Regions from separate parts of the Homo sapiens genome. Here region 1 is linked to region 2. The links come from fine-mapping of genetic effects on gene expression. A gene starts in region 2. The other region holds a variant in brackets. All regions are shown on one strand. Distances are from middle to middle.

Region 1 (5,374 bases), 61 kb after region 2:
TGTCTCCAGCCTCTCCGCTCTCAGCTAGAAGCACCTGCTCAACCCACACCATCCCCTGCTTTCCTGCAGGCTCCAACCCACCCCAGACTCTGGACCCAGCCCCTCGCAGTCAGGGTTAACTAAGGAGCAAGAGGTCAGTAGCTCAGGGCCTCAGCTCCCTGGTAGCCAGGTGCTGGGCCAGCCCAGAACATGGACCTCTGCCCTAGGTCTTATGTCCCAGGGCTTATCGCATCCCCCATTCTGAATAACGCAGCCCTGCCTCGCCCCTCAGGCCAGCCTGGCCTGATAACCCACTCTAGGATTTGGTTCCTTCCTTGCTCTAACCTGCCCCTAGGAACCAGAGTCTTGGTCTGACACCCCAGTCATCCAGCTGAGTTCCAGACCATGGACCCTATTTCAGTGCTGGCTTTCCAGGACCACAGGCTTCTAGAACCACTGTTCTGTTGCAACCTTCAGGAACCCTCCTGCCTTCTAATGTCTGGGATGTAAACTACTTGGTTGACAGACAACACCACTGATGATGTATGTCTTCCTAGAACAAATTCTACCCTCAGTCTGCGCCTTTCCAACCCTGTAGCTGGGTCTGCTGTGTCTCCCAGAAGAATGACTGATTTAAGCCTGGGGCACTCCAAGTCCCTTTTCATCCTACCATAAACATACATAGCCATGCTCTGAAAAATGACAAACAAAAACTGAGTTGAAACAGGGTCAGTACGTAAAGTACCCAGTCTGTATTACTCTTAGGGAAAGAAAAGCAAAGACAGATGGGGTTGACAGGGCACAGGCCACTTGGTTGGTATGTTCTAGTGCAACACTTCCTGATATGGTTTGGCTTTGTGTGCCCACCCAAATCTCTTCTTGAATTGTAATTCCACAACCCCCGCATGTCATGGGAGGGACGTGGTGGGAGGTAATCGAATCATGGAGGCAGATTTCCCCATGCTGTTCTCATAACAGTGAATGAGTTCTCCCTAGCTCTGATGGTTTTGTAAGTGTCTGGCATTTCCCCTGCTGGCACTTATTCTCTCTCCTGCTGCCCTGTGATGAGATGCCTCCCACCACAATTGTAAGTTTCCTAAGGCCTCCTAGCCATGCGGAACTAGGAGTCAATTAAACCTCTTTTCTTTGTAAATTATCTAGTCTTGGTATTTCTTCATAGCAGCGTGAGAATGGACTAATACACTTCCCAAACATCAATGTGTGTTAAGAATCACCTGGATCTTGTTAAAAATGCAGATCCAGTATGTCTTGGGTGGGGCCTGAGGTTCTACAGTTCTAAGAAGCTCCCAAGTGATGTCAGTGATGCTGGTGCATGGTCTACACTTTGTGTAACAGGACACCAGTGAATTTGAGAAGGCGTTATAAGCTACACTGGTCACTAGGGCCACAGCTAGCCCACACAGCACCTTCATGCAAATTAGAAGAAGGTGCCACTTACTGCCTGTGTTTGGCAAGCTGTGTCCAAGCTGGGCTTCAGTAGGAACCACCGCCATGGCATCTGCAGCAGCCTGCTGACCCCCACCACTAACTATTTGTATTTTCCACAGTATTGGAGGTTAGTAGGTGGTTAACCAGTAGTTAATACAAGAATCTCTCAGTCTGTCTTAGCTACCTGACTTTGGGTGTCCACTCTTCTTAACTTCAGGGACCAAAGGCCTCAGAAGGTCTTTTGAAGGATTCACCTCGAAAGTTACAGGCCATTCTTCAAGGATACAAGTCTGTTACAGAAATGTGAGGTCCTTTCTCCCCACACCTGAGATCCAACTTCAACCAAACAAACCTGTATACAATTCTCTAGCCCAAAATGTTTCAAATGTTCAATGTTTCAAATGTTCATTAGAGGCAGTGAGGTTCATCTGAGAAGAGACTGGACCTAAAGCCTGACTGGCTGGCCTCAAATCCCCACTCTGCCACTTACAAGCTGTGTCACATGGGCAGGTTACTTAACCTCCTTGGGCCTTAGTTTCCTCATCTATAAAATGGGGATTCTGAGAGTCACTTCTTGGGGTTGTGAAGATGAAATGAGATGACCTATGTGAAGCATCAGTACAGTCTGACCCATAGAGAATGTTCTACACAGGGAAGTAAGTTTAGGGTTCGCCCTTGAGAGAAATGGCAAGAGCTGCTCAGAAGCCCAGATGGGTTATGGATTCCCAGAGCCGTAAGGCCAGAAGGGCCCTAATATCATTTAGTACTAATTCAGTCTCTTCAATGTGCAGATGGGAAAACAGGAGCCCAGAGAGAGAAGAGGGCTTGCACAAGGTCTCACAGCAAATGAGTGGCATATTCACAACCAGAATCAAAAATCCCAGAGAGGTTTTGTGGGGTTCCTTTGAGGGTTTCCTGGGAAATTGGTCATCTTTAGCTGGCAAGTTCTGTGGTATAACTGCAAGTGCACCTCTCCTTCCTGGACACACAGCTAAACTACATTTTGAGGCCACAAGC[G/A]TCTGGGTTTTGGCTTACAGAATGTGCCAGAAGTGATGTTTATTATCTTTCACAATCTCTTCCCCCTCCCCAACTTCAGCCTGCTAGCTCCTGTGCGACCTTGAATCCACAAGATGGCAGAATCACAGAATGGAAGCATCCTGGATCCCTGAGTCACTTCTTGGAGGAGAGATGCCAAGCTGAGAACAACCACAGTGGAATTTGCAAGAGCGAGAAATAAGCTGCTATTGTGTTAAATCACTGAAAAGTTTATTTAATTGTAGTCAGCCTTACCCTAGTATATGCACATTTTGCACATCTTTGCCACATCTTTGAATTTTCATAACCGGGACAACTAAATCTAACCAAATCAAAGTATGAAAAATGCTTCAAACCCCAGCCCAGATCCAGCTGAGAGACGCTCTGACTTACCATTGGTCCTGGGGCTCCATGCATTCCAGGTTCACCCTAAAACAGGAAGATATATACTTGTCACTGTTTGGGACAGAAACAAAGATGCAAAGCTGGGGCAGATATGTGCCTGCAGGGTCTGGTGACATAATTACCTTTTTCCCCATCAGCCTTTCCAGAGGAATGTCCTCTGTCAGGATGGCACCCGGCTCTCCCTTCTCGCCCTGCAATTCAGAGAACATCTCAATGAAGTCAGGACTCCTCCTTGCCACCTTGTCCAGAGAGTTTTGTACAGAGACTCCTCCTTGCCACCTTGTACAGAGACCTCTGAGTCCTGCAGCCATGATTTATTTCTCTTGCCTTCATCCTACTTGAAACCCCACTGCTCCAAAATTACCTCGTACTAGAGTATTGCAACAGCCTCCTAAATGAATGAATGTTCTCTCAGCCATTCCCTCTATGCACCATCAGAGTTACCGTCCTAAGGCACAGGACAGTCCTGTCTTCCATGCCCCTTCAGGCTCCCACTGATAACAGATTTGCATCCTCACTCTCAACCCTCCAGGATCCAGCCCCAGTGTGGTCCTGTCTATCTCCTGCCACATGGTGCCCTCAAGGAAGCTCTGGCTCCCAATGTATTTGACAGCTTGCTTTCCTAGCAACTCAACCTGAGATCTGTTCCCACCAAGAATACTTATTCTTGTTAAAACACCTGAAATTAGGAAAGAGATGACGGTATAAAAACTAGAGGCCTCTGTCAACATGGAGGCCTTATGTCTCCATATGCAACGTTGCCTCCAAACTCTAAGCTCCTGTGCAAACACTTACTTAGTTAGGCAAAGCTATCCCAGACATTAGGAATGAGTGATGGGTAGACTGGTGGCAAGAACACAGGATCCTGACCCCAATCCTGTCCTCAGCAGAGACATCTACTATGCTAGAGGCTGCTGAGAAGATGATTGTCAAGAGAACAAGACTGGGTGCAGAAACCTTCTATCTGACTCTGAGGCTTTGGCCCTAAACTTCAATGCTGGCCCCTGGGGAGCAGGGCTGAGCCACACAGAAGTCTCTTTTCAATGGGGCTGGGAGTAGCTAGGACAGTAGCATCAAAGCAAGCAGAGCAGCCTCTTTCTTCCATCCCCCTAAGCCCACACCTGGTATTTAGATCTTACCACTCCACTGATGAGGAAAGGTAGTCCTGAGCACGCCAGCAGGGAGAAGAAGCAAGCACAAAAGCATTAGAGGCAGAGTGAGAGAAAGCACGTTCACTGCAATGGCCAGAGCAGAACTGCCCGGCTGCCTGGACCAGTCATTCAAGGTGGCAGGAGGTTAGGGCGGGGATGTCATGTCCGTCCCTCTAGATCCATCTGACCTTACCACATAGGAAACAGAGTGTTTAAACAGAGTGTTTAAAGCAAGAGGTGCTCTTGCTTCCCTGGGCCTCCTCCCAAGCCTGAGCTGGCCAGCCCTGGTCCATCTCCACAGGCCTGTGGCAGGAAAAGCATCCCAAGACACATCCCCACGTGATGCCAAACCTTCACCCAGCATACCGAGCCCTCCATGCCCTGGAGCAGTGGCCCACTAGATATTGGAGGCCCTCTCCTCCTTGGAGACCATTATATTATAGAATGATGGGGGGAGAGAAGAACGAGAGGAGTTCCCCCATCCCACAGAGCACACCCACCCTCCTTGACTCCCCATGGCAGGCTCAGGGGGTTGCACAGTGCTCCCACTGGCTTTGCACAGAGCTCCATTCCAGCTGTAAGCATGTGCTCTGTTAGCTCTTTGCATATCTCTTCCTCATCTTATTTCTATATCCCTACGCCTAGCACAGGAAACTGCCTGGCACACCACACGGGTCAGTGGACGAAAGATGGATGAGTATATACATGGACGAGTGAATATATTAATCTGTTTATGGACGTCACTCTCCCCCTTATCTATAAAAACCAACTGGAAAGTTAATTCTAAGAGGCAAACACAAAAGAATACAAGCACAACAATAGGTTTGGTACCCTGGGAGTTCTCAGGAAGTGTTCTGTGTGCTAAGTATTTATTCCAGAGACTTTGGACCAAGACTGTTGTTCAACTGCAGAATGCTCAATTTATAATTTATAAATATTAACATTTGTTCTACTCATTAATTATACATGCTTTCGTCCAACAAGTGTATTCAGTACCATTTGTATACCAGGCCCCATATTAGTATTGGAGCTATGGAAAAGAAGCTGGCAGGATGCCTGTCCTCAGGCAGTGCATGTTCTAAGGGGGATGCCCAGCAGGTGGTTAGACAAAGCACAGTGTGTGTGAGAACAAAGGAGTGTTGAGTTGAGTTCTCTTTCCAAATTATGGTAAAAATCAATTTCACTACCCACTTCGTACCTTCTCGTCTCATAGAGAACCTGGAGATTAAAAAAGTTAACAGCTGGAGAGTGACCGCTAATAAGTATGGGGTTTCTTTCTGGTATGATGAAAATGTTCTAGAATTACAGAGTGGTTCATGAGGTTGTACAACCTTATGAGCCCACCAAAAATCACT
Region 2 (5,374 bases):
AACTGGACTTACATAAAACAGTATAAATATTAAAGGAATGCTCAAATAGAAATCAACAAGCATTTATGTGGAATAGAATATAAAACACAGTGCTAAGTTCTGAGGCCACAAAAGAAAGAAATGGCATGAATCTTGTCCTCTGGGTACCTATAACGCATTCAAGTAGAGTTAAGTAGCAGCACAGGCAGTAGAAATGGACAACACAAACTGTTAAGTGTTGCAGAGTTCTGGAAGACAAAGAATTCAAGAACTAAACCAGCACAGGAAGTCAGGGCTGAGAACTTCTCGCACTCCCAAAAAAAGGGGCAAAACTAAATGTGTAGTGAAAAGGCTGAACAGTCAGGAGTCAGTGAGAAAGAGAAATTGCTCGAAGGTCTGCAGTAATGAGAAATGAGATCCCTGGTAGGATACTCAGAGATGGCCCCAATCATAAGCTGCTAAGTGTTGTTCTAAGTGCTGAATACAAATGGGAAATCTTATAAACCTTCACGGGGAAGGCTGAGGAAGATTAGTTTGGCAGTAGCCATAGAAAAGCCTAGATGAGAAAAACATGGGAAAGCAACTAGATTTGGAGGATAACAGGCAGGATTAAGCTGAAGGCTGCATACCAAGAAAGGAGGAGACATTCAAGAGGCATTCATAGAAGAGTTGGATTGGGGGCACGTTTTCAAAGAAAAAAAGTTATGAAATGGCAGAAAGGAAGCAAATAGCATTCTCAGATGGGATATACATATAGACATAGTGGTACTAAACTGTGCACTAGGGATAAGGAATCAATTTCCCTAGAGAAACCTATGTTGGAGACAGAAGTTGGGCAGAGAACATTAAAACATACTCAGAACATAAAAAGGTGCAAGTCTTTAAAAGGGAAGCCAAGTTACAGAGGAAATAAAAAGCATTTGACCTTTTTCAGAATGTTTTTTAAGGGTGGACTGAGGCATCATCATAACCAACAGGGGAGGCAGACAAGCTGAGGCAGTCTGGGCTTAGAGTAATAAGCACCTGGACAGCTTTGTATTTTGTGCATACCATGGAGACTGTAAACTCCTCCAGGACATGGACTGAGCAATGTTCTGTGTCTTCAACTAAGTCCACTACTGTTACTTGAATACATGAACGCTTCTTGTGCTACTTCTGGTGGAAAAGAGTGCACTGTGTTATTCAAGTTAATAGCGGTGTGGAAATGTTACCTGTGTTTCATGCCTAACTATACTGATTCTCCCAAATGTCCACACAGTTATCCTGCCTTCCTCCCTAGGCCAATGTCAAAAATCCATTGTTTCCTCTAATGCAGGCCCACGTGAAGGGACTCAACAATGTGCTAAGAGTCGGAATGAAGCCTATCTGATACTCAAATCATGAGGACAGAATCCAAAGTGGATAATAAAGACCAATTGCTCATCAGACGACTGAAGAAGAAAAATGGGCTACGCCAGATAGTATGATGTATACATATTTATATATATATATGACATACAGGTTTGGGAAACTGAGATCTGAGTGAAAATCCTAGCTTTAGCACTTAAGTTATTGGGTACTTAACGTGTCTGTACCCCACTTTGCACATCTGTAAAGTGGGGCAAATGCCACTACTCCTGGGAGTTTACTTGTGGTGATTAAATAATGTAATTATACAATAGTGTATGCATTTACATCGTAGTAATGCACAATACATAGACGGTAGCTATTAGGACTGATTATAATCGTCACCGTCAGTCTTGATTTTTTAAAAAAATTTCAACATCTTTTGTCCAGTTTCAGAAACAGAAATGTACTTTCACTGCATTTTAGTTGCTAACACTGAGGCTGTGTATTTTAGCTTCTAGTGTCTCAGTTCAGCTGCTAACGAAGTTTTTCACTCATCCCTTTGTGGATACCAACCACCTACCCCAACCTGATTTACTATTTTGAAAAATCCAGCCAACAGTCTTCCTTGAAAACCAGCTATACAGATGTCTGAATCAAACTATTAACTGTCACTCAAGAAAAGGAACAACGTGAGTGATGTTCCTTCGAGGAAATAAAAAGCGTTTAATCAATTCACAGTCGTTCCCAAAATTTCCAAAACCCGCAGAATGAGCAAACGTTCAAGTTTCCACTATGAAAACAATCCGTAGCCGTCTGGTTACTGGACTCACTTCAACACTCCCCAGACGCACGAAAGAAGAAACATTCCGCGCATCTCCGCGCTTCCTTCTTCTCACACAAAGCCCCCCTGGCTGGAGGAGCAGCCCCTTCCAGCAGGGTCGGCTCGGGTCGAGCCGGGCGGGAGTCAGGGCGGCCTGCGGACCCAGGGGTCTCACCACACGTCGCCCCCGACTCCCACTGGACGAAGCCCTAGAGGCTCGGAGCTCACACCCCGCCCGGGAGCCGCCTTCCACCCCAACCTCAAACCCCGCCCCGGGTTCGGCAGCCTCTGGCACGGACCCTCTTGGGGCGGGGGTCCCCAGAACAAGGTCACGCCGTGCCCAGGGGGCGGCGGCGGGCAGCCACGGCTCTGCCAGTCCCCGCCGGCCTCGCACTCTCCGCCCCTGGCCCTCGCCCACTCACACCCCAGAGGGCAGCCCCGGACCTCGGACGACTCCGCCCGACTCCACCTCCCCGGGGAGTCCCGAGCGGGGCGGCCTCGGGCAGCCGGACACGTCCGCCCGCGCCCGGACACACGCCCCTGCCCCGCCTCCGCTCCCCGCTTGCGGTTCGCCCGGCAGCCGCCGAGCCGCGCGGCGCCACGAGAGCCCGGCCCGGGCCCCGGCGCCGCCACCTGCGCCCCCGGCCCCGCGCCATGTTTGAGAAAGAGCAGGAGCGAGCCAGAGGCCGGGTCCGGCCCGCGCGCCCCGCAGTCGCCCGCCCGCCGCGCCGCCGCTCACCCGTCGCCCCCGGGAGCAGCGCCGCCGCCGCCGCCGCCGCCGCCGCCAGCACGAGGAGGAGCAGCCGGGGACGCGGAGCAGCGACCGCCGCCTCCATGGTCCCGCCGCCACCGCCTGTGGCCCGGCCCGGCCCGGCCGCGCCGCTGCCTCACCCCAGCAAACCTCGCCTCGCCCCACCTCCCTAGCCGCCGCGGCGGCCTCGCTCCGGCCCTTTGTAACTGCTCGGAGGACGCGCGTCCATTGGCTGCCGGGCTCCCGCCGGCCCCGCCTCCCCGCCGCCGCGAGCTGCCAAGCGGGACCCAGCCGGGAGCCCCGCCTGCGGGCCCGCCAGGCAGCCAATCCGCAGCCGCGAGCGCCGGTTTCTGGCCACGCCCCACGCTCCCCGGGGGCTGGGCCGCCAGACCCCAGCCCCGGCCCGATCGGCTCCCGGCTCCGAGAGGCCGCGTGGGGGCGGGGTCTGCCAGCCCCAGCACCGCTCAGCCGCTAGCCCCGGAGGGCCGGGTAGAGCGATGGGTGTGTCTGTGTGAGTCTCTTTCGGAAAAAGGCTGTGGCCGTTCGACGCTCTTTTCTTCTAACCTCCTCTAGGCGCGGAAGATCTGGTACTGCCTCAGCCCCACCCTGACCCCATTCACAGCTCCGCATTGGCAATCCCAGCACATGCCACCCAGATCCGCTGCAGCGCCAGGCCCCTGCATCCACTTCAACTTCCCCTCTCCAAGTCCACGCATCAACTTCAGCATTCCCCCGAAGATCCCTCCTCAGTGCCCTTCACATGCGACTCACTCTCCTATTTCCTCCTGCTCCCAGCGGTCACCCCAAACCCAGCTCCCCCACCCAGTTCCAAACCCAGAAAGTCCTCAGATCCCAGCGTCAGACCCAGATCCTGAGCCCAAACACACCCCCAAATAGCCTCCCGCCTCCCTCCAGCACAGATCCAGGATGGGGATCCAAGCCGCACTCCTCTCAAACCCCTTCCCGATCCAGGTTGGAAAGGGAGGATCCCCACCCCAACCCCTCAAAGGAGGGGTTCCCCCTTCTTAGCACCCAGCTCCCGCGGGGCGGAGGGGGAGCAGTCATCATTACTTTGAGCTGTGTCTGACACTGCTGTATAATAATCCTGAGGTGTCACTAAAAACCCAAATAAACTCTACGTTTTCATTCTGAATTCCTAATTTACTGCGAGACGCTCCACCCACCTTCCCTCTGCGACGCCAAAATGAGCTCCAGATTTGTAATTCTTCCTGTCAGACTAGTCCTTTCTTCAGACACAAACACAGCCAAGGAGGCTGTTACGTAGAACAGAGAATATTTTTCCGCAGAACCTTTTAAGGAGGAAATTTTATTTTCTGTGTCATTTGAGCTTAGAATTAAATAAACCTTGATAGCAGGAATCAGAATGGTTCTGATTAATGCCAATTTGTGCACTACTTTAGAGTCACTGGGTGAGCATTTTCCCCACCTGTGAAGGCTTCCTTCCGGGAGATGAAAAGGGAAAAGGCGTGGATATTGGAGCTGGGATCTGAGACCCGCGCGCTTTCTCCCTCCTGTCTAGGACACTTACTTAAGCAAGTCAGCTAACCTTTCTGAACCTCCAACAGGCTCAGAGGCCTGCAACTTGCTCTACACCGCAGCTCCAGCAGCCTCAGCAGCAAACTCCCCTCTTGCTCAGGCTGAGGGATTCCAGAGAGATGGCTTCTGGCAGGCTCCAGTCCCAATTTGCCCTCTCAGTTCCAGTTTCTTCAATGGAGATTTGGTGGACTTTGTGCCACCTGAGGTCCCTAGACTGCCTTTTTGCTGCTCTATTTGCAATGTCTTTCATAAGATAAGAGCTAATGAGATTTTTATTGTATGAATGAATGAATGATCTCAGAAAGTGACTGTTTTTCTCTGGCCATTAGCTTCTTCATCTCTAAAATGTAAATAATAATAGTACCTACCCCGTTTATAAATAAAAGGGATTGAATCACTTGTCTTGGGCCCCTTAAATGACGTAATGTGTCTGGTACAGTGTCTGGAACATAGTAAATATTTAGCTAATGCCATTTCTTTGCCCATCCCCTTCCAGCTCTGTATGATTCTAATCAGCATGTATGTTCATGTCAGTCTGTGCCTTTGACGTACGGAGCCTAGATTAATCAGTGTTAATCACACCTCCAGTTCCTTAACATTTTCCGTGGAATTCAGTGGATACAATAGGAAGGAAAAACAGACTATTTTTAAGTTGTATCTTCCTGATACTAGGAGGAAATTTCCATGAGCCACAGATCCATAAATAAACTACACTAGAATGGAACACTAAATTATTAGTTTAAAATCATGGTTCCCAAATTGTAAAGTCTCTCCAATTACCTGGAGAGCTTGTAATAATACAGATTCCTGGGTCTCCCTCGGCCCTAGCAAGTCTGCTTCAGTTCATGTGGAGAAGGTTCAGGAATCTGCATTTGTAATAGACATCCCAGGTGATTCTGCTGCAAGTGGCACTGGGCCCGCTTCAAAAGACACTGCTT

Evidence for each region. PIP is the estimated chance that this variant, and not a neighbour inherited with it, causes the effect. A credible set is the group of variants that fine-mapping cannot tell apart.
Region 1: its variant is the best candidate, but not a certain one, in a credible set for the expression of TGFBR1 in whole blood (TOPMed, PIP 0.82).

What each region holds. Positions count from the first base shown.
Region 1 is chr9:99,042,253-99,047,626 of GRCh38, reverse strand. COL15A1 (collagen type XV alpha 1 chain) reads right to left here. Exons shown (of 42, transcript NM_001855.5): 25 at 2,991-3,059; 26 at 2,857-2,892. Among named protein-coding and RNA genes, the nearest start is that of TGFBR1, 60 kb to the left of the region's middle. The variant G/A (reference allele first, on the strand shown) is at 2,446.
Region 2 is chr9:99,102,796-99,108,169 of GRCh38, reverse strand. TGFBR1 (transforming growth factor beta receptor 1) reads right to left here and starts at 3,057. Exons shown (of 9, transcript NM_004612.4): 1 at 2,868-3,057. The coding sequence starts at 2,964. RefSeq lists silencers at 2,330-2,839, 2,930-3,529.